Linked DNA regions of Homo sapiens. The protein of the gene in region 6 purifies or fractionates together with the protein of the main gene of each other region. This does not show direct contact. Each region holds a gene or a part of one and is shown on either strand. Other genes may lie near its edges.

Region 1 (3,500 bases), on a different chromosome or scaffold from region 6:
AAGCGATTCTCCTGCCTCAGCCTCCGGAGTAGCTGGGATTACAGGCCTGCACCACCACACCCAGCTAATTTTTGTATTTGTAGGAGAGATGGGGTTTTGCCATGTTGGCCAGGCTGGTGTTGAACTCCTGACCACAAGTGATCCACCTGTCTCAGCTTCCCAAAGTGCTGGGATTACAGGCGTGAGCCACCACACCTGGCCCTTTATGTATTTTCGAAGGAGCCTGGAGCTCTGCACGTATAATCAGTCTGTTTCTCCAAATTAGGAGGTTCGAGCAGAGTGTTTGTTACTTGTAGAGAGGAGTTTATTGCATAGGCAAGGTGAGCAGGAGGGCAGAGTGCTCACACCCTTTCTCCTGTCCTGTAGTTGGAGTGGAAGATGTCCCTCTTTCATACAAACCACTTATGGACCTTGGATATTTTCCTGAGATCACAGCAATGTGTCCCAAGGATTTCCCACATGCTTACTGGAGCAGAAGCACTAACTATTGACTAGGAAAAGGAGATTGTCTCCTAAAGTATCCTGTCAGCTGCTTTGGGGTGGATTATAGAAAGAAGTGAAGAGATGGCCACACATCCCTCGGTGCTTGGTGGAACATAGAGCATATATAGAGGGAGAATAGATTTGTCACTTATTTCAATGCCAGAACCAGGTAGGCACAGAATCTTAGTGACTTTCCAAAGGTTAGCCAGAAACTCAGGGAAGAGGTGACTCTAGGATTTTCCTCCTCTTCAGTGTCAAATTAGTACTTTGCCAAGTAAACTACATATTTTCCTAGACACCTGGAACCTCAATTCTTTCTTCTGTTTCTCATGTTGGAAGCCAATTAACTGGGTTTGGCTTAGAGACATTGAGTCATCTCTCTTTCTCAGAGCTACTGGAATATCCTGTCAATTGGCACACATGGTTGTATCTTATACTCATTGGAAATACAGTTACTATGAGTGACAGAACAACACAAAAGTCCATTCTAAAGGCATGTCATAGACCACATGGGTGTAGGATGTCACAAAGAGCTGATAACGATCAGAAACGCCATTCCTTAACTCAAAGCCAAGGTTTTCTCAGTTTATAGGTCTATTAGTCATGCTGCATATTGTTTCAAAATAAAAGCGCACTATGATTTTAGGGAAAACCACATAGTTATCAAAGATGTGACTGGGTTAATTACTCTTATGTAACTGGGACGTCATTTCCATTTGGGAATGGAAGGCTCTGTGAAACTTGGCAATTGTTTAGGTTGGTGGGCCAGAAATTAATTCCTGTTGTGGACTTTTAGAACAAACCTCAGTAAAACACATCAAAGACTAAGTTCAGGCTTCCCAGTGGAGACAAACTAATTGGCAAGATTAAAAACCAAGTCCAGGCATCCTATCACATGCATAATCTATTTGGCCTCATTAGTAGTTGAAATTAAAAATCAGAATTGACCTATATTAATTGCATTTGCATAGTGCTTATAAAAAATGTCAAAGGATTGATGATAGGGCCATGTCAATAAAAAGCTTATGATCTTGGTTAATTAAACAAGAAAAAGAAGTCTTCATTAGAATATTATCACTCTAAGCATATTGGAAAGAAGATCACAGGCCTTAGTTAATACAGCCTAACTCTCTCTACATTTATTTACAAGAAATCTCAAGATGAAAGCAACATTAAGCACCTCTAGTCATCTTAAATGTCAGCTATATAAACATATTAAGTATGCCAAAGCAAACAAGACACGATTTTCCCTTTATATCCTTCAGACTGTTCAAAATTTCCAAAAATGCCTCCATAATTGTCTTTTAAAATCCCTAACTGTATCCCTCTAAATTCCCTCAACAGCCCCTCTAGTTTAAAAGGAAAACAAAGTAAATCAACTTACCTTCCATAAAGCTAAGGTTAAAATGGCGAGAACCAACAATCCAAGAAGTATTGCTAGTATTATTACCCATAATGGGATTGAGAAGGAAACATTCGGAGTTGCCCAAATAACTGATGTCTTAATCTGAAATGGAAAACAAAGCAAATGAGCTCTAATGCGAAAACTATTTGGTGAAATAAAATAGTAATTACCAGTACAACATCGGAAGTTGATCTGAAAGGATCCATATGACAATTGAAATCATCTAGGGGATATTTGAGAGGTAGCACTCGAACATGAACTCTTAAAAGCTAGCATGTTCCTAGATCTGCTTGGTTCTGTAAAAGTCTAATTAGAGATTTGGTGGGTGGGTGGCTTTGCATCACAGAAACCCTAGAATAGAATTGAGTGCATCAGGAATTGACAAGGTGGAAAGGAATGGCCTTCACTTGGGCTGGAACTTTTATGGGAACAATGGCCAAAAGTAGACTCAATAAAAAACTGAATGAATCTGTCTACCATGTGTCTCCTTAGAACTCAGCTAGCCTCATTGAGAGAGGTAAGCTTGTGAACAACCATGAATCCTTGGATGTGCAAGAAGGGTAGAAATCTCTAATCTAATCCCCTCATTTTACAGGTGAGAAAATTAACTCCCAGAGGGACTAAGTGATTCATTCACACAACGAATTAGTGTCAATACTAGGTCTCTTTATCCCTAGATTCTGTGCTGTATCAGTGAAGGATATCCCAGAGCATGAGGCTAGGCATCTTGTATTTTATGGAAGTAACTGTAGTGTGCAAAGTGAATGTTCAATTTTTTTTGATGCGTTGGAGATGACTTTAATCCTAAATCCAAAGATCAGGCCAGAGCGGTGGCTCATGCCTGTAATCCTAGCACTTTGGGAGGCCAAGGTGGGTGGATTGCCTGAGCTCAGGAGGTCGAGACCAGACTTGGCAACATGGTGAAACCCCATCTCCACTAAAGATACAAAAAATTAGCTGGGTGTGGTGGCGCACACCTGTAATCCCAGCTACTCAGGAGGCTGACACACGAAAATTGCTTGAACCTGGGAGGTGGAGGTTGTAGTGAGCCAAGATCATGCCACTGCACTCCAGCCTAGGCAACAGGGTGACACTCTTCTTTCTCCTTCCCGCCAAAAAACAAAAACACAAAAACAAAGATCATATGGGGACTGGAGCCCATTTCATCCCGCACTGTTGCAAGGGGGCTTAGAGGAAAATGAGACCTTCCCAATCTGACTGCATGCTCAGTGTCTATGAACCACTCCCTATGTGGGCAGAAGCACTTCTATTGCTCCTGTGTTGGAGGCCTGTGCCTCCGGAGGCCGAGGCAGCAAAGAAGCTGCAGATTCCCAAGGAGAGACCCAGCCATGCTGCTAAAACCTTTTGTCAAAGAAAAGAGCGCTACATTATTCTTGGATGCAGACATTATTCACTAACGTAGTATTCCGGTTTTATCAGAGTGGCAAGCATTGCCTCCACTCAGCTGGTCTAAGGTCTCCTAGTTTTAATTGTGTTGGTTGAAAGGATCATTTCAATCCTGAAACACACTCAAGAACTCCAGGACACATTCTATAACCCACCCGTCAGGAGAGGCTGAGACTAATGACTAAGGTTGGCGGCTCTGAGATTT
Region 2 (3,500 bases), on a different chromosome or scaffold from region 6:
GGCCGAGGCAGGATAATCACTTGAACCCGGGAGGCGGAGATTGCAGTGAGCCGAGATCGCGCCACTGCACTCCAGCCTGGCAACAGAGCAAGACTCCCTCTTAAAAAAAAAAAAAAATTCTCACTTTGCAGCCAGACCTCCCCACAGTGGATCCTATCTCATCCTCATTGACCTCTGCTCCAGCCCCTATGCTGTCCGCAGTTTCTTGCCTCCCGATTGTCCCTGCACTGACCACTGTGTGCTCAGCGTGAAGGCTGCATAGAAGTGTGTACGGCTTGAGGTTTCAGCATCCAGGCTGCAGACCCCACGCAGTGTCTCATACAGTGGAATGTGGCAGATGAGACGGGCTTTCAGGAAGGAAGTCCACTTCTTCTGCAGGATCTTCTTCCCTCCCAGGTCTCCCTGGGGAGGTAGAGGCACGGGATAAGGGGCCAGGGTCAGAGGTCCAGCCTCTATACCCGTGCCCCAACGTCAGCCCAATCCACCTTGCAGACACGAGCCACACGGGCCACACGGTGACTGCTGCGGCTCTGAGTGAAGCTGCCAGAGCCCTCCTCAGTGGCACGCTCCGTGAAGAAGTAGTACACCTTGTCATCATCACCCACTGCACTGGCCTTGCTCTCCCGCACGAGGACGGAGAACACAAACTCCGCATCTGTGGGTCAGGCAGTTTGAGAGGCTTTTGAGACAGGCTGGGGATTCCTTTCCCTCACTCTGAGGCTGACCCCTCACTTGACAACACACAGGAATGGAATGGACAGGCTCACCTGGGGATTTGGGGGTGGGGTGGTCAGCTGGCCAAGGGAGTAAAAATGAAGAAATAGTCCCCTACCCCCCATCATCCTGTGCCTCATCCTCCTAACCATTGAGCCAATGCATTGGTGTCTCCTCAGTTCTCAGGGAGTGTGGGTGGCGGCTCCGGCGGATGTCAGGAATGCTCCGGAATTCATACCTAGTGGCTGTGTAGAGGCCTCCATCTGGCGTGGGGATATTCCAGGCATGAGAGACATGTCATATTCAACAGGGCACATGACATATACATGGTGGCAGGTCCTAGAGATGAGATCCACATCCTAAAAATACCATGTCTGTGATAGGGAAGAAGGCCTGCTCACCAATGATGAGGCCTGTGAAGCCACGGGCTGGGTCATAAGGACACTTCTCCTTCCCCTCCTCGAAGCTGGTTGGCAAGGTGAAGGCCTCAGCATCCTAGGGAACAAGGAACCAGCAGTAAGTGGTTCCGAAGACAGGCAGGGACAGTGGCTCAAAGTCAGATCAGTCTGGGGTCAGGGATCAGCGATCAGGGATAGGGGCAGGTTGTATGGCAGATGCACCTGACAGCAATAACTTAAGCATCCCCTGAGAATGACCTTATGGCCTCAAAACAATGTATGTTTGGAGTTCCAAATCTGCAAGTGGCCAACCTAGAGATTCACTCCTTATCTATGAAGAACATCTGAGCCCCTAGCCCATCCTGTGGAACACATGCTGTCCAGGGGATCAAGGCCCTTTGTTTTGGGTTAAATGAAGTTTGCCAGGTGGAGGTGATTAGGGGGAGGATGCTAAGTGAAAATGCTATAAAAACTGCATGGTTTTTACAAAGGGGAATGGTTCTCCAGTGCAGCCCGCCGCCACTGGAGTGCCCTGTATGGAAGTCCCCTTAATAAACCATCCGTCTCCTTCACTGGCTCTGAGTCTCTTCTTTGGCATCTTGAACATGATCCCATCCCTAATGAAGTCAACAGAGATCTGGCACAACACAGGTATACTCACAATGGCTGCACAGAGGGGCTGGAAGGCGTGAGTCCCACATGCATAGAGGTGGGTAGAATTGAGCCGCTGCAGGAACCGCACATGGTTAAAGCACTCCGTCTGTGGGATGAGGTGGAGAGGGCTGTGAGCCCCCTGCCTGACTAGAAGCCTCCTCCATTAGTCTAGCTTTGTAGTTTGGCTCTTGCCCCCACCCACAGGACAAACGGTTCTTTCCAAGATACCTGTGATCCTTCTCACTGCTCCAGAATATTTCCTGGAACTCACTGTCCTTGGCCTCCCAGTAACATGACCCTATTTCTCTCCTCTGTCCCTCAGATTACCTGACACCATTCTGCCAATATCTCCTGTGTCTCTTGCAGTTCCCTCCACCTCTGGTTCAAGAGCTCCCAGGGATTCCACCATCCTGAGGTGCTTCTCCTCTCCCATCCAGCTCCTTCTCAGCACCTCTTTCTATTCTTGGAACTCCTGCCCTCCTCGCTGGGGTGATACAACCAAATCTATCCCTAGATGCCAGCTTGCTCTCCACCCGATATCCCAGGGATGTTTCAAACTCACCTTGTCAGAAGCCAAGTTCATCCCCTCCTCCATAACCTACATCTTTCCTAAACCTGTTTATCCAGTCTTTCCCACCTCACTTCATCCAACCTACGACTCAACCTAGAAGCCAGGGATCATCCTTGCTGCTTCCTACTTCCTCACCCCCACATTCAGTCCCTCTCCACAATTAATTCATTGTCCTAAAAGTCTCTTGACTTGGTCCACTTTGACTCCACCACCAGCACCCAGTCCAAATGACCACCATGACCTCTTCCTTAGACATCTGCAGTTGCTACCTGATAGCTCCTCCCAACCTTCTCTTTTATAAAAACGACTTTATAAAGCTATTTATTCAGTCAATGAATACATGTACATAGTATAAAACTTAGAAAGTACAAAGGGGTATGTTATAAACAGGGAGTCTCCCATTTATCCCTGTCTCCCAGGTTGCCTGCCAAGAAGACTGCTGTTACTATTGTCTGAAGTTTCCTTCCAGAGATATTTTACCAAACAACACACTTTTGCTACTCTCCAACCACTTTCCAAGGGATATTCTAAAAATGTAAACCTAGCCAGGTGTGGTGGCTCACACCTGTAATCCCAGCACTTTGGGAGGCTGAGGTGGGAGGATCACTGGAGCCCAGGAGTCCAAGACCAGCCTGGACAATATAGCAAGACCTCATCTCTATGTGGTGGCATGCACCTGTAGTCCTAGCTACTTGGGAGGCTTAGGCAAGAGAATTGTTTGAGCCCAGGAGGTCGAGGCTGCAGTGAACCACTGCACTCCAGCCTGGGCAACAGAGTGAGACCATGTCTGAAAAAAAGTCAAGTGGATCACACCACTGTATCGGCTCATCAGTGACCTGAATATAGAGTCCCACATGCTCCTAGCCCTGTGTGATGGGACTCTGCCCATTCCTCTGGTCTCACTCACCCTACTCCAGCCACACTGGTCTTCTCTGCCTGTCAAATGCCCTCAGCTGCCAGCCTCTTGACTCCTTTGCCACGTTAATGATTCCTCCTCTTGCCTGTTACCCAGGGTTTAAATCCATACAGGCCTCTTTGTGTCTCCTCCTGCTCCCTCACCTGGTACAAGCCACTACCATCTGTCCCCCGTCTCCATAAGCCTGCTCAGGCCCCTTCCTCTGACCCAAATGATGCCCCCAGCCTCCTCACTGCTTTTCCTGCCT
Region 3 (3,500 bases), on a different chromosome or scaffold from region 6:
CAACATAGTGAAACCCCGTCTCTACTAAAAATACAAAAATTAGCAGAACGTGGTGGTGGGCACCTGTAGTCCCAGCTACTCCGGAGGCTGAGGCAGGAGAATCACTTGAACCTGGGAGGCGGAGGTTGCAGTGAGCCAAGATCGCGCCATTGCACTCCAGCCTGGGCAACAAGAGCAAAACTCCATCTCAAAAACAAACAAAACAAAACAAAAAAACAAAAAGAAACATCCCCCCTCCAACAAATACATGTTATAGCAAATGGAAAACATATGTGTGTGTATTATAAAAATATTAATAACTGCGTCTTCATTATTAAGCCCCTGAATACTAGACAAGATGCATAGAAAAGCTAGATTGTGTTGAGTTGTAGCTCACCAGGAGCCTCAGAAAGAATTAACCGCGAGGCTAGGCGCGGTAGCTCACACCTGTAATCCCAGCATTTTGAGAGGCCAAGGTGGGAGGATCGCTTGAGCCCAGGAGTTGGAGATCAGCCTGGGCAACATGGCAAAAACCTGTCTCTACCAAAAATACAAAAATTAGCTGGGCTGGGCACAGTGGCCCACGCCTGTAATCCCAGCACTTCGGGAGGCCGAGGCGGGTGAATCACGAGGTCAGGAGATCAAGACCATCCTGGCTAACAAGGTGAAACCCCGTCTCTACTAAAAAAATACAAAAAATTAGCCAGGCGTGGTGGCTGGTGCCTGTAGTCCCAGCTACTTGGGAGGCTGAGGCAGGAGAATGGCATGAACCCGGAAGGCAGAGCTTGCAGTGAGCCGAGATCAGGGGCCACTGCACTCCAGCCTGGGCAACAGAGCAAGACTGTGTCTCAAAAAAAAAAAAAAAAAAAAAAATTAGCTGGACATGGTGGCACACACCTGTAGTCCCAGCTACTCAGGAGGCTGAGGTGGAAGGATGGTTTGAGTCAGGGAGGCGGGGGTGGCAGTGAGCTGAGATGGCGCCATTGCACTCCAGCCTGGGTGACAGAGCCAGATCCTGACTCAAAAAAAAAAAAAAAAAGTTAATTGCTTACACTACATGAAAAACAAAAGTGTTTCTGTGAAACCTAAAATAAATATTTTTTCTTAAGATGCTGCTAAAACTTTGTTTCAAACATGCACAAGTTCAAGAGAAATAATTGACAATAAGGACGGTGAAGTGAGGTTTTCAAAGTGAGGTGCATTCAATGTAGAGAACAATCCTTTAGTCTGAAATCACATCCTTAGTATTTTGGATGAAAATTTATTTCTTCTCTTGTCAGCCCTGCTTTTTTTTTTTTTTTCTTTTTTTAATGTGTTTCCACTAAAACCAATAGCCTAGGGCCACCATTCTAGAATGTCTAGGTGGGCTCTTCATTTGTGCCATCTAAATCACAAGAAGGCTGGGTGCCAATTTTTCAATTAATATTCAGAGCTTTAAAATGTTCCTCTTTTCTTTGATCTCATATCAACATACATAAACATTTCTTGCCTAAGTAAATAGTCAGAATACCCTGAAGGAGGCTTGTTGTAAAAATTTTTCTTTGTAACATTATTTATAATAGCAAAAAGCTGCAAACAATTTCAATGTCGAACAAGAAGAAAATATAGTATAGTATGGCTGCATGAGGAAATCATGGCCATGTATTTTCAGCACGCCTTGTACTTTACCTGGTAATAACAGTACCCTTTGTTGAGTGTTTACTACATGAGAGGCACCACGTAAAACAACAAAATAACATTTTTTAGAGAATATTTAATGATAAAGGAGAATGGTCACACTATAATGTTAAATCAAAAAGGCAGGATAGAAATCTACAGATAGCCAATTCTAGAAACAACAACGTGTATGTGAGCGCGTTCACGCATAAACAATAAACAATAGAAAGAAATATGCCAAAATGTTATCAATGGTGATCTCTAAGAAGTGAGATTATTGCTGATTCTTACTTTTTATATTTTTGTGCATTCTAAAATTGTCCTAAAATGAACATCTATAATTTTTATAATCACAAAGAAATATTATTTTTAAAAGATTAGATCATATTTCTTTAGTTCCTCACAGCAAATGCCTTCATTGAGCAATAATTTAATACTCTGCCCTTTCTCTTTTTCTTGTCCTGGTATAGTTTCTGTTTCTTTTTTGAAAACATCTCCTAAAGGCATTCTGTTTTATGAGGTTCAATACCAATGCCCCTTGACTTACGGTGGGGTTACATCCCAATAAACTCATCGTAAGTTGAAAACATTCTAAGTAGAAAATGCATTTAATACACCTAACCTACTGAACACCACAGCCTAGCCTAGTCTATCTTAAATGTGCTCAGAACACTTCCATTAGTCTATAGTTGGGCAAAATCATCTAACACAAATCTACTGTATAATAAAGTATTGGATACCTCATATAATTTACCAAATATGTACCAAAAGTGAAAACCAGGTTGGTTGCAATGGGTACTATGATAGAGTTGAAAAATCTTAAGTCAAACGATCTTAAATCGGAGATCGTCTGTATATCTTTTTGAAATGTCTTTAAGTTTGCTTCCAGAAAAAAACACTTTCTCCTTTTCCTGACTAATAAAAAGCTGTGCATCTTTTGATCATACAAAGACAGCTATGGATCACTTTAAGGTTCCACTTTTGCCTTGAGGACAAAAGGAAGCTCAGAACTGGATTTAATGCTACATCACAGCACACAATCATTTCCCTAAGTTTCTGGTATATTGCATGTGCTTTGTAAGGGCAGAGACTGAGCTGTGTTTGTCTCTGTATTTTCAGCACGCCTTGTACTTTACCTGGTAGTAACAGTACCATTTGTTGAGTGCTTAATACAGGAGAGGCACCATATAAGCATTTTATACACATTACTTCATGTAGCCTTCCTAACAACCCTACTGGGTAGGGACTACAATAATCTCTGCTGGTAGAATATTTACTTATTATATGGATATGAATGAATTAATGGATACAGTAAATGCCTCTTGATCTTCCTTTTTTTTTTTTTCACCCAGGCTGGAGTGCAGTGGTGGGATCTTGGCTCACTGCCACCTCTGCCTCCCAGGTTCAGGCAATTCTCCTGCCTCAGCCTCCCAAGTAGCTGGGATTACAGGTGTCCGCCACCATGCCTGGCTAATTTTTGTATTTTTAGTAAAGACGTGGTTTCGCCATTTTGGACAGGGCTGGTCTCGAACTCCTGACCTCAAGTGATCCGCCCTCCTTGGCCTCCTAAAGTTCTGGGATTACAGGCATGACCCACTGCACCCAGCCCCTCCTGATCTTCTTTTATCTTTATATTAAGGTTATCACATAAATGTCTTTTAAAAAAAATCAAATCATATCCTCTGTAGAAAAGGCCAAGGAGATCGTGATGTACATTTTTGTGTCTTACCTGCCTAGAATCCTTTCTCCTTTCTTCACTGTACACTGCATCTTGATTTCCCTTTCAAGAGCCAACCTTTTCCAATTCTCAGTCTATGTGGTTTGTGGAGGGCTGAACATACACAAGCACATGCATATACACACAG
Region 4 (3,500 bases), on a different chromosome or scaffold from region 6:
TTTGCGTAGGTTCATTCTATGATGTTTGCACAATGACAAAATTGCCTAACAACATATTCCTCAGAACATATCCCTGTCATTAAATGATACATGACTGTATAGTGCATGTATTCAGACATGGATGTATCTGTGTATAGATATGCATATATATGTGTAAAATATAATAGGGAGATAGTAAGATGGTAGCCATATTTGCTGGCCACTCTATATTGTGGAACACATGTAAGTTTTAGCTTCTAAAAGTTATTTTGGGGGGAGGTAGAAGCCTCTTGGGTATAATTTAATATTCAAAATAGTCATGGTATATATATTATACATATAACATTTGTTGGAGAGTGATTCTTCAGGCACTTAATGTGGTAGATGTTATTGAGATTGAAAGAGAAAAAAAGAGTAAGTAGTCACACAGTAATTTTGGCAAGAATCTTGGAAGCATAATCATCATCTGGAATTGAAAACATCTGGCACTGATGTTGTGTCTTGTCAATATCATTAAAATAGCAAAGACAGATGTAAAAAATGCACATATTTTTTAAGTGCTTAAGATTGATTTATAGAGATGACTAATAAATAGCATTTTTTGCATGAGAGCCTATAATTACAATCATAATTTGAAATCTGAATGTTTTTAGTAATTCAAATGTGTTATTTTATTAGAAAAATAAGTAATTACAAGAACAGCTAATTTACAGTATTTATTTATTATGATAGTATTTATTATAAACAGAAAAAATGGCAGCAAGGTGGTAAATGGAAGTAGAGGAAAACATAAGCATTAAGTTGAAAGGCACTGATATGGTCTGGTTCTGTGTTCCACCCAAATTTCATCTTGAATTGTAATCCAAATTGTAATACCCATGCATTGTGCAAGGGATCTCATGGGAGGTGATTAGGTCATGAGGGCAGTTCCCCCATGCTGTTCTCGTGATAGTGAGTGAGTTCTCATGAGACCTGATGGTATTATAAGGGGCTTTCCCCCACTTCTCTCTGCACTTCTATCTCCTGCTGCCATGTGAAGAAGGACAGGTTTGCTTCCCCTTCTGCCATGATTGTAAGTTTCCTGAGGCCTACCCAGCCATGTGGAACTGTGAATCAATTAAACCTCTTTCCTTAGAAATTACCCAGTCTCAGGTATTTCTTCACAGCAGCATGAAAACAAGCTAACACAGTAAATCAGTACTGGATAGTGTGGTGCTGCTGTAAAGATACCTGAAAATGTGGAAGCGACTTTGGAACTGGGTAACAGGCAGAGGTTGGAATGGTGTGAAGGGCTCAGAAGAAGACAGGAAGATGTGAGAAAGTCTGAAACTTCTGAGACTTGTTGAATGGTTTTGACCAAAATGCTTATAATGATATGAACAATGAAGTGCAGGCTGAGGTGGTTTTAGATGGAGATGAGAAATGTGTTGGGAACTGGATAAAGGTGTCTCTTGCTATGTTTTAGCAAAGAGACTGGTGGCATTTTGCCTCAGCCCCAGAGATCTGTGGAGCTTTGAACTTGAGAGAGATGATTTAGGGTATCTGGCAGAAAAAATTTCTAACTGGCAAAGGGCTCAAGAGTAAACAGAGCAAAAAAATTTGGAAAATTTGCCTCCTGATGATGTAACAGAAAAGAAAAACCCATTTTCTGAGGAAAAATTTAAGCCTGTGGCAGAAATTTGCATAAGTAACTAGGAGCCAAATGTTAAACATGAAGACAATGGGGAAATGTCTCCAGGGCATGTCAGAGACTTCACAGCAGCCCTTCCTGTCACAGGCCTGGAGGCCTAGAAGAAAAACGTTTCATGGGCTGGATCCAGGGCCTCCCTGCTGTGTGCAGCCTTGGACTTGGTGCCCTGTGTTCCAGGTGCTCCAGCCGTGGCTAAAAGGGGCCAAGTTACAGCTCAGGCCATTGCTTAAGAGGGTGCAACCTAAGTCTTGGCAGCTTCCATGTGGTGTTGGTCCTGCAGGTGCAAAGAAGTCAAGAATGAGATTTGGGAAACTCTGCCTAGATTTCACAGGATGTATGGAAATGCATGGATGTCCTGGCAGAAGTCTGCTGCAGGAGAAGAGCCCTCATGGAGAACCTCTGCTAGGGAAGTACAGAAGGGAAATGTGGGGTGAGAGCCCTCACAAAGTAATGGAGTAGTGGCCAGAGCCTCCTGTAGGGGCACTGCATAGTGGAGCTGTGAGAAGAGGGCCACCATCCTCAAGACTCCAGAATGGTAGATCCACTGACAGCTTGCACTGTGCTGGAAAAGCCGCAGACACTCAATGCTGACCTGTGAAAGCAGCCAGGAGTGGGGCTGTACCTTGCAAAGCCACAGGAGCAGAGCTTCCCCAGGCTTTGAGAGCACACCTCTTGTATCAGCATAACCTGGATATGAGACATGGAGTCAAAGGAGATCATTTTGGAACTTTAAGGTTTAATGACTACTTTATTGAATTTTAGACTTGCATGGGGCCTGTAGCTTCTTCGTTTTGGCCAATTTCCCCTTTTGGAATGGGTGCATTTCCCCAATGCCTGTACCCCAATTATATTTTGAAGTAACTAACTTGCTTTTGATTTTCCAGGTGCATATCTGGAAGAGACTTGCTTTGTCTCAGATGAGACTATGGACTTGAACTTTTTTTTTTTTTTTTTGAGACGGAATCTCGCTCTTTTGCCCAGGCCGGACTGCAGTGGTGCTATCTCGGCTCACTGCAAGCTCCGCCTCCTGGGCTCACACCATTCTCCTGCCTCAGCCTCCTGAGTAGCTGGGATTACAGGCGCCCGCCACTGTGCCTGGCTAATTTTTTGTATTTTTAGTAGAGATGGGGTTTCACCGTGTTAGCCAAGATGGTCTTGATCTCCTGACCTCGTGATCCACCTGCCTCAGCCTCCCAAAGTGCTGGGATTACAGGCATGAGCCATCGCACCCAGCCGGACTTGGACTTTTGAGTTAATGCTGAAATGAGTTAAGACTTTGGGGAACTGTTGGAAAAGCATAATTGTGTTTTGAAATTTGATAAAGATGACATTTGAGAGGGGTCAGGGTCAGAATGATATGATTTGGCTCTGTGTCCCCACCTAAATCTTATGTTGAATTGTAATCTGAATTATAATCCCTATGTGTTGGGAGAGGGACCTCATGTGAGGTGACTAGGTCATGGGAGCAGTTTTCCCATGCTGTTCTTATGATAGTGAGTGAGTTCTCACAAGACATAAGGGTTTTATAAGTGTTTTTTCCCTCTTTCCCCTGCACTTCTCTCTCCTGCTGCCATGTGAAGAAGGACATGTTTGCTTCCCCTTCCACTATGATTATAAGTTTCCTGAGGCCTCCCCAGCCATGTGGAACTGTCAGTCAACTAAACCTCTTTCCTTTATAAATTACTCAATCTTGGATATGTCTTCATAGCAGTGTGAAAATGACTAATACATGCATTAATCTTATTGACACCAGAGAATGGTTCACTATTAGTAAAGTTTTCCACTATATAATTTAAATATAACATTTAAGATAGACTTCATTTTTTTGAAT
Region 5 (3,996 bases), on a different chromosome or scaffold from region 6:
CCGGATGTGCGGTGTGGCCCTGGGCTGGCTATTTAACCTCTCTGAGCCCATGAAACAGGGCTGGCAAAACAGTCTCACATGAGTTAAATGAGGAATTGTAAGGCTGTGAAAGTTCACATGCTACTTTTCATTCTAAAAACAGGTACAAACACTTTTTGATTGGCTTTTAGAATCCATTTCTAGGTTTTACATGTGTATAAGACATGTGGAGATGTTCCTGTCACCTCCGAACTAGGCCACAGCTGGGAGGGCCTGGGGCCAACAGTGCCCAGGTCCAGGTTCACCCTCTGAGGGGAGCAGCACAGGCTTTCTACTCCTGCCCCTCTACCAATCACACAACAACCCTGAGGACAGATCACCAGGCACCTCATTTTACAAGGAGCAACGAAGGCTGAGAGGGTGAGGAACTTTCCTAAGGTCACACAGAGGGGTAGGCCCTGCCCAATTCATAGCAATAGCCCCACCAGGCTGTGCATGCCTTGACCCAGGGGATGCCAGGGGAGGTCGGATGTGGGCTGGGTGGTGACGCATTCTGATGGGCGGCTCCCTGGGGACATTCTTGGACGACTCCATCCACAACTCTTCTTGGTCCTGAGCCCAGTGTCAGCCTGTCCTGATGACAGAGCCCCAGCCCCAGCTTCACAGATGGTCTCCTCTGTCCCACATCCCCACCCTGTCCTCTAACTACAAAGGCAGCATCCAGATCCCACCGGCTAGAGTCCTGTCCCTGGCACTGGGCGCTCAGTGATGGTGAATGGCTGCCTCCTGCTGCTCGCCTCCACCACCAGCTCTGGGTTGCGGGAAGCAGAGGCTTGGCCATGCCCTCTTCTGTCCTAGTGTAGGAAGCAAATGGCTGATGGCCCCACAAAACCTGCTGCGGCTCAGTCCCCTGTTTTCCTCAGCCCAGACTCCTCAGAAAGGTCTCTGCACCTTGAAAGCCTGACCTGACAACAGAAATGTCATCTCTTTGAGCCCTGGATGGACAGTCAGGCTTCCTGGGCCTGTCCTGGCTCAGCAGCGTAGAGGCTGCGCTGTCCTAGGCATGGCGCTGCCTCTCTGAGCCTCACTGTCCTCATCTGGGAGATGGGGATGAAGACCGTGGCTGTTATCAGGGTTGTCGGGAGGATGAAGAATTAATGATGCTGTCTGTGGAGGGAGGCTGATGGCCGGGGCCAGGGACCCTCTCCCTCCTCTCAGCCCCACAGCTCCCCGACTTTGGGCTGATCTGTGGTCCTTGGTTCCCCAGACCCCAGACTGTCACTAGCCACAGACAGGAGGCAAAGCAGATGGGTGACCTGACCAATAGTAACTACATGACCATAGACCAAAGAGTTTAGTACTGGAAAAAAAATCTCTGAGATCTTAGGGAATAAATAGCTCCAGGGTTTGATACAAGATATTTGCAGACAGGAAAAGCCGGGCTTTGCCTGGGAGAACAAAGTGGGTCCAGCTGCCCACTGGACCATTCCACAGGACTGGACACTCACCCCATACCAGATCACATCCCAGGTGTTGGGCCCAGGGTGACAAGGCAACAGTCCCTGCCCCAGCGAGCTGAGTTTGCTCCTTCCCCAGCCGCCCCCCTGACAGCCGCACCCCACCCAGGCTCCGCACAGAGAAGAGCCTGCTGTGGACTCAGGGCACGCGACTCAGCTCTGGTCACTCCGATGTGACCACAGGTTTCCACGCTGAACTTTGTCCCTCTCCTCAGTACTGCCCTTATCACAGTGACAGCATCCCGGCCTCTGTTTACTCACCTGTCTCCCCAGGACCAGGCTGTCTTCCCGGGGCAGCCCAGGTGGGCAAAGACATCACCTGATTCTTACTCCTGGGTGTGTTTGGGGCAGGGTGAAGGCAGCGCCTGGGAGTCCACAGTCCCCCACACTCTGCTCCTGACCACCCCGCAGCCCAGGGGGCCCCCATGACCCTTAGACCTTCCCTAACCACGGCGGTCCCACTCCCCTGTGGTTCGCGTCCACCGTCTGTGACTCCCCGTTCGGCCAGGGCCCGGCACAGCCCGCGGATGCGCGCCCCTCCCCTGCAGCCAGCTTACTCCGAGGGTCCCCGCGCGGGCGGCCGCACTCACCCATGTTAACGAAGCTCATGACCAGGTCGGCGCGGCCCAGGCGCCGCTCCGCGGGCGCGCCGTCCTCGTCGTCGTCGCCGGCCATGGCGTGGTACAGGTCCAGCATGAAGAGCGGCGCGGACGCGGGCAGCCGGGAGGCGGCGGGTGGCGCGCGGGGCCGGGGCCGCCCAGGCAGCCCGAGCACCGCCAGGATCTCGCGCTGCACGTCCCGGCGCTCGCGCGCGCCCAGACGTCGCTGGGGACAGCCGGGCGGGGGTCGCAGGCCGGGGCCGCCCCCGCCCAGCGCGCATAGCGCCAGGCCCAGGAGCCAGAGCGGGCCGGGGAGCGCGGTCATGGCAGGCCGGGGGCGCTCAGCTGGGGCGCTCAGCGGGCGCGCATCGGCTCCGCGGCCGACCCAGGGCCTGGGGACGCCCCGACGGCAAGGAGGCTGGGCTCGGCGGGCGGCGGGCGGCGGGGCGGGGCGGGACGGGCGGCGACCGCGGCCTCAGCGCGGTCCCTGGAGCGCCCGCCGCGCGACACCTGTCCTGGCTCCTGGACGAGAGGACGCGGACGCCACCGCCTCGAGGCCGGGGCTACTCTGCGGACTGGGACTCTCGGCCAATCCGTCTGTCGCCGCCGTACCCGCCAGTCCGGCTGTGGCCGCGGTCCGAGCAGCGCAGGGGCGATGGGCGAGCTCCTGCAGCCACCCGCTTGGTGCGGTTCCCGCGAGTCCCTGCCCTGCCCTGCCCAGCGGTCCGCGTCGCCCGCCCCCACCCCGGGACTGACCAATGGGGGGGCGGGGGCGGGGCCTGGGAGCGGGGGCCACGCCTGCGAGGGGGCCCGGGGCTGCGGCCGGTGTCGCGGGTGGGGAGACCCCGAGGTGCTACCTGGGCGTGGCGGGTGGGCAGGCGGCCCGGGCGAGGGGCTCGCAGCCTGGGCGTCAGCGTGGTCATGGCCGTCGTGGCTTCCGCCGCGGGCCTCGGCGCAGAGATCCTAGGGCCGCGGCGCCCTTCCGGTCCCGCCAGTGGTGCCACCCGGCCGCCCCGCCGTCGCGTGCGCGGGTCGCCATGGCATGCTGCAGGCGCCTCCTTCCCGGCACCTGCTCAGCTGCTCCTCCCCGCGCCCCCACCTGGCTCCCGCGTGAGCCTGGGCAGCGCCCCAGGCAGGCCGCCCCCGCCAGCCCTCGCTGCGCGGCGTGCGCCCCCTGCGCCCCCAGTACTGATCCAGCTTCGCGGGGGAGACGCGCACCCGCCTCCTGCCTTTAGCCGGGCCAGGAGCTCTGGGGCCCTTCTGGAGCACCCGGGAGCCACCTGTGCACTTCTCAGTCGCCACGGCCCCGGTGCAGGCCTGGCAGGAGAAGGATCCCCGCGGAAATGCCTCTACTAACTCAGCCCCTTTCTGCACTCTCTGCTCTTCTCTGGGCGCGCTCTCGCCTTACTTATTCCTGTGTGGTTCAGGCGCTGCGGAAGGAGAAGGCACCTAGACTGTACTGGGAAGGCTCCTGGAGTTGACCTGGAGCGCCAGGAAAGGTCAGTGGAGGAAAGTGCTCCAAGCAGAGGGAAGAGCTTGTGCCAAGGCCCTGAGACCCCGGCGGGGGAGCCTAATAATGGCAGGTAACAGTCAGCACTTGCCACGCGCGAGGCATGTTCTCAGTGTGTGTCTTGTGTCATTTCTGTGATGCTTGCACATCGTCAGGGGGTACCTACCACTGGAACCTCCTCTTTTAACAAATGAGGAAACTGAGGCACACAGCGGTTAAGGGACTTACGCTAGGTCACACAGCAGTAGAGCTGGGCTGGGGCAGGGGGCAGCTCCTCAAGTGGAACCTGGAGAGCCCACGGGGCAAATGGCGGAGGCTGGAGGGGCTGGCAAGGGAGGGACTGCAAAGGGCCTCACAGGGGCTAGACGAGGGCCCTGGGCACCAGTGATTA
Region 6 (3,500 bases):
CTCATCTACAGAGCTAGCATTATCTTTATACTCCCTTTACATACCTTGAGTTAACAGTTCAAAAGTATAGCTCTTCACAGCATCTTCATTTTGAGCTACAATAGTATAATGGCCACTGTCTTCTTCCTTAGCACGGATCAGCTTTAATTTGCTTCGATACCTTTTAAAAAAAGGATTTTGTTTCAACAAGCAGTAGCTAAGTAAGTTCCAATTGTTTAAACAATTGTACTCTTCAATTTAAGTTTTATTTTTACTGTAAAAAGTAAAGTCATCTTTTTTTCTTGTCCATATCATCTCTTCTGGAATTCTCAATATATAGTGCACACACTGAAGGTCTGGATCATACACACAATTCTTACAAGAGAAAACCAGACATTCAGAGATGAGCAATGGCCATCTCCAAGAGCTATCAGTTCAGCCACGGCCTGACTTCTGAATGAATAAACACAGCCTACCAACTTTTCTTTAAAAAAATAAAAAATAAAAACCTTTGATTTTTACCTTTTTTAAAAAATACTTGCTTCCCCTAAATATCCATCATTTAGGTGGTTCAGCCAAAAAATGGAATATCACTGGAGGATAGAATGAGGACACTTTCTATGTATTTGTATGTAGCGGTCTGCAGGATATGACAGTCCTACTTGCTTGTATTTTGCTTAAAGAAACTCTGGAAGGTTTCATAAGAACCTAATGAAACTAATGAAGATGTTTCCCTGTGGGGAGGAGGGGAGAACTGGGCAGCTGGGGACAGGAGTACAGTGAGGCTTCTTACAATGCATTCTCTTTTTGTTTGATTATTTTTCAAGCACGGGATTCTATCACCTATTAAAAAAAAGTTATAGGCTGGGTGTGATGACTCACACCTGTAATCCCAGCACTTTGGGAGGCCAAGGTAGGTGAATCACTTGAGGTCAGGAGTTCGAGACCAGCCTCACAAACATGGTGAAACCCCCATCTCTACTAAAAATACAAAAAAAAAAAAATTAGCCAGGCATGGTGGCACATGCCTGTAATCCCAGCTACTCAGGAGGCTGAAGCTGAAGAATCGCTTGAACCCAGGAGGCGGAGGTTGCAGTGAGCCGTGATCGTACCGCTGCACTCCAGCCTGGGTGACAGAGCAAGACTCCATCTCAAAAAAAAAAAAAAAAGTTAGAAAAAATATGCCTCTTCAAAAAAAAAAAATATATGTCTCTTCAAACTTTATTAAAGAGAAACTTCCCCAAAAATATTTTACATGGATTATAAATGACATCTGGTTGTGTGTGTGTGTGTGTGTGTGTGTGTGTGTATGTATGTGCATAAATATAGTATGTGCCCATTTGATTGTCCTTTATAAATCATCACAGTTGAAAAAGCAACTGGAATGGAGAAGAAAAGCATTGGTCATGGAGTGAGAAGATCTCGGGTATTATTACAATGCTCCATGCCTCAGTTTCCTTGTGTGTAAAACGTGATAATTGTACACATAGCACAGAGTCATTGTGAGAGTTAATTAAAGGAGATTGTATGTGTGAAAGCATTTCATAGGCTCCAAAACACTTTGCAAATACTGGGGCACTCAGACCTACGAAGACAGCAGGCTGGACCATACTGGGTGTGCTCCAGGACTGGATTTCCTTAAGAGAGTACCCTGGGGCACACTAGGATGCTGATTACCAAATTATCCTCTGCTGTTTGTTCTCTTCACTTCTTCGGCCAAGAAAACCACTGGTTTTCTTGCTCCAGGAAAGCCAGATCCCCCATCCTGGAGTTTTAAGCTCCAGGAAGCCAGATCCCCCATCTACCATGTTCATCTTTGTATTCACTGGCTCATAACAGGAACTAAAAAATCCACGTTGAAGCATCCTTGAATCACTAAAAGGAAAAGGCAGCTTTCCAGAACCACTCAGTTGGCGAGCCTGTCCTGCCACTGCTATGGATTATGGCTTGCAGACAGTGCTCACACACGTGTTGGAGGTGTTAGCTGTACCAGGGTTGTTACCCTATTCCTCTCTGGCTGCACAGCCTCATGGAAGTTCCTCGTGGAAAGCTGCCCTCCTTGTTGTACACCTTCATTTTGTGTCAACAGAAAGCCTTCCAGATTCAGTATCCCACTTCATTTTTCCTTTACTATTCTATAGAGGCTGTAAAATTCCATTTTCTCAGACATTGCTTCTCAATTACACGTGGAATTTAGTTCACAAAGAAGAAAGCAAATCCTGAGGTGAATGGAACTGATGAGAAAGGCTCTGTTCTTCCTCCTGAAGGCTTGAAATACAGGACTGACTTTGTCTTTCTGAGATGATTTCTGACAAAAGTATAGGGCTGGTTAGCTGGGTGCTGTGAGATGTATCTTCTGACTCTTGGGTTCTAATCACAGCTTAAAACCTTAAGAGGCCTCATGATATCATCTGATCCAATTCCTTGCCTTGAAGGACATAAGGTATTGTTTATCCTACATTGTAGATGAGGAAACTGTGGCTGAGGGGTGACTCATTCAAAACTCCACCACCAATTAAGAGATGAGAGCAATCTACCATTCTGATTAAAAGGTAGGGATCCAAGCAACTCACTGCACATCTCTCTCCTGATTAGCCAGGCTCTACTCTTCTTTCCTGTGGAGTCCTCAATTAGGGCAAATGGGTTCCAGATTAAGCCTATGACGTTAACTTTCACGTAAGGTGATGTGATAACTGCCTCATGGGTGTAATCACCATATCTGTCTACTTGCGATATGGATGATGAACATCAGGGAATATATTCAATCTATTCAATCCTGGTGAGTCCAATTTTACTTCCTTTCTTCCACCCTAGCTGAATCCAGTGACCTGTCTTTCCCCAGGGGCCAGAGCTTTTAGTTCTTTCTTCTCATCTTCTCATTAAATACTTACCAGCATACTAATACCACTTTGCAATGTTATCATTAAAGGGATGTGATTTCAAGCATCTCTTAACTCAGATTGTTACATTTTCTAGACTGACTTTGGGTCTGGGTTGTAAGACACACACAAACCTCAGTCCGCCTCTGATGCACACTAAAAAAAGGCATACTTGGGCAGAGAGTTTCTTTACCTTATTTCCTGAATCTTTTCCACATCAGTGGTGATCTCAGTGAGATTTTCAATCAGAGTCAGATTGTTTTTCAGCCAGGATATCCTGGGAGGTGGGTAGGCCCGCACCTCTACAACAAAATGTTTGACTTCATGCAGGTTGACAGCTTCCAACTGGCTGAAGGTGGGTTTGATTTCAATGAAACCTTTCTCTGTACAGGGAAGAGTTTCCATTAAATAATGATTACCACATATGGATCCCGAGCAGCATGGACAACTGACATTTTAGAAAGCGGAATGTACCATGGACAGAAATAGTGACTTTCTTCATTTCTTTGACCTCCCTGGTAGCCTGGCGGGCAGCACATTCGTAATCTCCACTGTCTTTCACCGTGGCCTCGGGGACCGTCAAAGTGTACACCAATTTGATGGATGGGACTTTGATTTCTTCCAGCATTGTGATGCCTTTGC
Region 7 (3,500 bases), on a different chromosome or scaffold from region 6:
GCAGGCTCCAGAGATACGATTCTATAGGAAATTTTCGAATTCAGGGTATTGGGCTCATCTGCATCTGTTGCATTGATTTTCATCACAAGAGTATCTGGCATTAGAAATAAAGATGTCTAAGATGAAATTCAACTTTAAGCATATTTACCTGTTATTTTATTTATAATTTTAGCTTGTTCCAAAAAAGATTTCAGGTGCTTATCAAAATCACATACAGTTGACCACAATATAACATTTAACTGGATGAGGACATAAGCGTGAATGGGATATAACAATAGTAAAAACAAGATGAAGGCAAGGCTGAGGGTAGAGTCCTGAAAAATTGCTGTATAAGGGCACAGATTTGTTTATAATAGTATTAGTAGCCAATACAAAGAAAGTAACATGAGCAGGTACATGATCCTGATATCTATTAAGATACAAACAAATCAGGAGAAGCGTAACTATTCCTTACATCATGGTCAAAAAGAAATCTCTCATTCGGGTCCTCATGAAGAGCACTGTGTTGAACAATGTTGTGAATAAATATTACAGTAAAAATAATACAACTTACAGGTCAGCAAACTATAGCCAAAGCTGTAGGGCCAAAGCTAACCAGCCACCTGTTTTTGTAAATGAAGTTTTATTGGACCACAGCTAGGCTCATTTGTTTACATATTGTCTATGGTGCTTTCCTGCAGATAGCAGAGTTGAGTAGTTGCTACAGAGACCTTATCCATCACATTAATCTACCCTATCTGTTCTGAGGGTAAAAGCAATGGCATGTAAAGTCCTTTAAACCTATAAGGAAAGCAGTTCTGAACTGCTTTCTTATCATTTGTTCTGTAGGTAATACTCAACTTTCATTAAGATATGAAATTTAGTGTTTATTTACAGTGGGGATAAAGTAATCTTAGGTATTTATTTATTAAAAAAAAAAAAAAAGACTCTTACGTGCTGCACTCAACTCTTCAACAGACCCAACAAAGACATCCTGTGTGAACACTGGTTCGTTGTCATTGATATCAAGAACCTTAATGCGTAGCTCTAAGGGTTTCTCTACATTGTTTCCTCTTGCATCCAAAGCGTAACCTGTTAGCTGAAATCATGACATAAATAAGATTAGATTTAAGCTAAGAAAACTAAATTACCATACTATGAAAAAATAAAACAAATGACACTTATTATGACAGAAAAACTACAAACTAATAAATCTAAAATTATTCTTCTTACCAGAAAAAATGGTGTTTCTTCTCGATCAAGAATGCTGGTAACATTCAGTTCTCCAGTATCTTTGTTAAAGACAAATATACCAAAAGGTGGCTCTGTAATCCCTTTTCCAGTGTATTTGTAAGTAATTTTGAGTCCTCTTTCTTCTGCAAGATCAGAATGTATCTAACATAAAAATAACAGGAATGTTTCAGGTTGAACTCTCTGTAATTTACTAGATTTGATCTTAGCCAAAAGCCTAAGAAGTGATTCTCTATAATTTACAGGTAAATATTTTTATGGACAATTTCCTTCTGAAGTTCTTTGGTAATACAGGCCAGAGATGACATGACTTGGACTAGGGGAATGGCAGTGGAGTTGAAGAGAAGCAGCAGATTTGGAATATATTTTTGGAATAGAACTGATAGTGTGTGGTACATTTTTGGCTTGAAAAACTGGAGAGAATTATAGCATCAATTACCAAAATGGGTAGAACTTATGAAGAAAAGCTTTGGGGGGAAAAAAATGAAGGGTTTATGTTTGTGCATGCCAACTTTGAAATATAGAGTAGCAACACTATCACATAATTTATCAAAAAAATTGGACCCCTTGAGAGTGAAAACACAGATATTAATTATTAAGCCAGGAGAGCAGGCATAAACCACGACTGTCTCAGGCAGATGAAGATGGTCCCCCTACCTAGTAATAGACACCAGTTCATCTTGAAAATGACATTTTATGACATCCTCTTTTGAGCACTGAACATTTTGTGTTACCAGTGCCAAATCCCTTTACTCTTAGTTAAATCAAAACTCAAAGTTATCTATATTTTTGCCAATGATGCTGCATCTTCCGGAATGGGAAAGAGAATCTTAAAGTTGATACTTTATGCTAAAAAGTAAGCTCTGCTAATTTTCAGATATATCTTGAATATTTAAAAATTCTGTAAGCACATCATACATTTTCCTTAAATCTTAAAGTAGACATAAAAGTCCTCTCACACCACATTTTAGTCATATGCATGTATTTCATGTTCCTCTTTAGGAGGTACCTTGGCAATTGGATTCTTCTTGGACAGATCCTCTCCCTCCCGAAGAGCCACGGGGGCGGTGATCCAGGCGCGCTTTTGCCGCACTAAATGAGGATGTTTAGGAAGCAGCTTATTTTCATTTCTTGTGCTTAAGACCTATAACAATAGAATATTGCCAAAATTTATTATGTGTCATAAATATAGAACATTAGTATGCTGTCCTATAACATAATAAACTTTTAAATAGTGCAAATTTTAAGGTATGCTTCGTATTTCCTATGAGGCTTCATTGTCTAAAAGGGAATATATATATTCTAGCAAACTGCATAGGGCCTCAAGAGATTGTCTCCAAGCTAGTAAAAGTGTAGGGTTTTTTCTGGTTTATTTTTTCTTTTGAGACAGGGTCTTGCTTTGTCACCCAGGCTGGAGTGCAGTGGCATGATCTTGGCTCACTGTAGCCTTGACTTCCCCGGATCAAGCCATCTTCCTGCCTCAGCCTCCTAAGAAGCTGGGATTACAGGCATGCACCACCACATCTGGCTAATTTTTGTATTTTTAGTAGCTATGGGGTTTCACCATGTTGCCTAAGCTGGCCTTGAACTCCTAGACTCAAGCCTCAAGCAATCCGCCCGCCTCAGTCTCCCAAAGTGCTGGGATTACAAGTGTGAGCCACTGTGCCCAGACAGTAGAATTTTGTTTTTAACTGTAAGAAATGATTTCCCAGAGTGAGAGTTTGAAAAGTTTAAAGAATCATTTAGTAGCCTTACAAATTGGCAAAGTAAAAAATAACAGATCATGTCAAAAACGTTTTTTCTTATTAACTGAAAATGAAGTTTCATTTTTCTGTGGTGGTTTGTGGTTTAAAAATAAATTACTAAATGTTTTTTAAGGCTAAATCTTAGTAATCTATTGATATAAACTTGACTAAAACCAGGGAAACTGCCAGTTAATGAATTTATTGTTTTCAGGATTGGGTAAAGAATTAAATTTCCCATTTCATTTTCAGAACCTTAGGCAGAAAACCATTCTATAAATTTCCAGTTGGGTTTTACAGGTGAATATATATTTTATCCAAGGGAAATTTCAATACAGCTGACCTGGGATCTTAAGATCAGAAATAATCCTTATACTAGGTTTGGTTTATCATTTTACTCATTTTGTTGCTCTATGTAATAGGTATTTTACTTCAAAATATGTACTCTGGTTATCACTAGGTCATTGATTTTTTTTTTTACTTGAACAAAATTTTCTATGACAAAAAATTGAAATTACTTTTTCATTT

What was found.
Region 1: the proteins of PDGFRA (region 6) and ITGA8 purify together in Homo sapiens (affinity purification with mass spectrometry; one large-scale study listed by BioGRID and IntAct). This does not show direct contact.
Region 2: the proteins of PDGFRA (region 6) and SEMA4G purify together in Homo sapiens (affinity purification with mass spectrometry; one large-scale study listed by BioGRID and IntAct). This does not show direct contact.
Region 3: the proteins of PDGFRA (region 6) and GALNT12 purify together in Homo sapiens (affinity purification with mass spectrometry; one large-scale study listed by BioGRID and IntAct). This does not show direct contact.
Region 4: the proteins of PDGFRA (region 6) and SEMA3D purify together in Homo sapiens (affinity purification with mass spectrometry; one large-scale study listed by BioGRID and IntAct). This does not show direct contact.
Region 5: the proteins of PDGFRA (region 6) and BMP8B purify together in Homo sapiens (affinity purification with mass spectrometry; one large-scale study listed by BioGRID and IntAct). This does not show direct contact.
Region 7: the proteins of PDGFRA (region 6) and DSG2 purify together in Homo sapiens (affinity purification with mass spectrometry; one large-scale study listed by BioGRID and IntAct). This does not show direct contact.

The regions. Positions count from the first base shown.
Region 1 is NC_000010.11:15,517,423-15,520,922, forward strand, and holds part of ITGA8 (integrin alpha-8 isoform 1 preproprotein), read right to left. Parts: intron 1,991-3,500; coding exon 1,868-1,990; intron 1-1,867. UniProt on the Homo sapiens protein: Integrin alpha-8/beta-1 functions in the genesis of kidney and probably of other organs by regulating the recruitment of mesenchymal cells into epithelial structures.
Region 2 is NC_000010.11:100,976,004-100,979,503, reverse strand, and holds part of SEMA4G (semaphorin-4G isoform 1 precursor), read right to left. Parts: intron 1,873-3,500; coding exon 1,774-1,872; intron 1,685-1,773; exon of another isoform or gene 1,210-1,684; coding exon 1,116-1,209; exon of another isoform or gene 978-1,115; coding exon 864-977; exon of another isoform or gene 687-863; coding exon of another isoform or gene 656-686; coding exon 486-655; exon of another isoform or gene 403-485; coding exon 233-402; coding exon of another isoform or gene 132-232; intron 1-131. Other genes in the region: MRPL43 (large ribosomal subunit protein mL43), read left to right, coding at 493-686. UniProt on the Homo sapiens protein: Cell surface receptor for PLXNB2. May play a role in axon guidance.
Region 3 is NC_000009.12:98,814,170-98,817,669, reverse strand, and holds part of GALNT12 (polypeptide N-acetylgalactosaminyltransferase 12), read right to left. Parts: intron 1-3,500. UniProt on the Homo sapiens protein: Catalyzes the initial reaction in O-linked oligosaccharide biosynthesis, the transfer of an N-acetyl-D-galactosamine residue to a serine or threonine residue on the protein receptor.
Region 4 is NC_000007.14:85,177,057-85,180,556, forward strand, and holds part of SEMA3D (semaphorin-3D precursor), read right to left. Parts: intron 1-3,500.
Region 5 is NC_000001.11:39,786,066-39,790,061, forward strand, and holds the start of BMP8B (bone morphogenetic protein 8B preproprotein), read right to left. Parts: upstream 2,801-3,996; 5' UTR 2,421-2,800; coding exon 2,087-2,420; intron 1-2,086.
Region 6 is NC_000004.12:54,267,293-54,270,792, reverse strand, and holds part of PDGFRA (platelet-derived growth factor receptor alpha isoform 1 precursor), read right to left. Parts: coding exon 3,333-3,500; intron 3,242-3,332; coding exon 3,052-3,241; intron 161-3,051; coding exon 45-160; intron 1-44. UniProt on the Homo sapiens protein: Tyrosine-protein kinase that acts as a cell-surface receptor for PDGFA, PDGFB and PDGFC and plays an essential role in the regulation of embryonic development, cell proliferation, survival and chemotaxis.
Region 7 is NC_000018.10:31,518,677-31,522,176, reverse strand, and holds part of DSG2 (desmoglein-2 preproprotein), read right to left. Parts: intron 2,375-3,500; coding exon 2,240-2,374; intron 1,375-2,239; coding exon 1,213-1,374; intron 1,079-1,212; coding exon 934-1,078; intron 95-933; coding exon 1-94.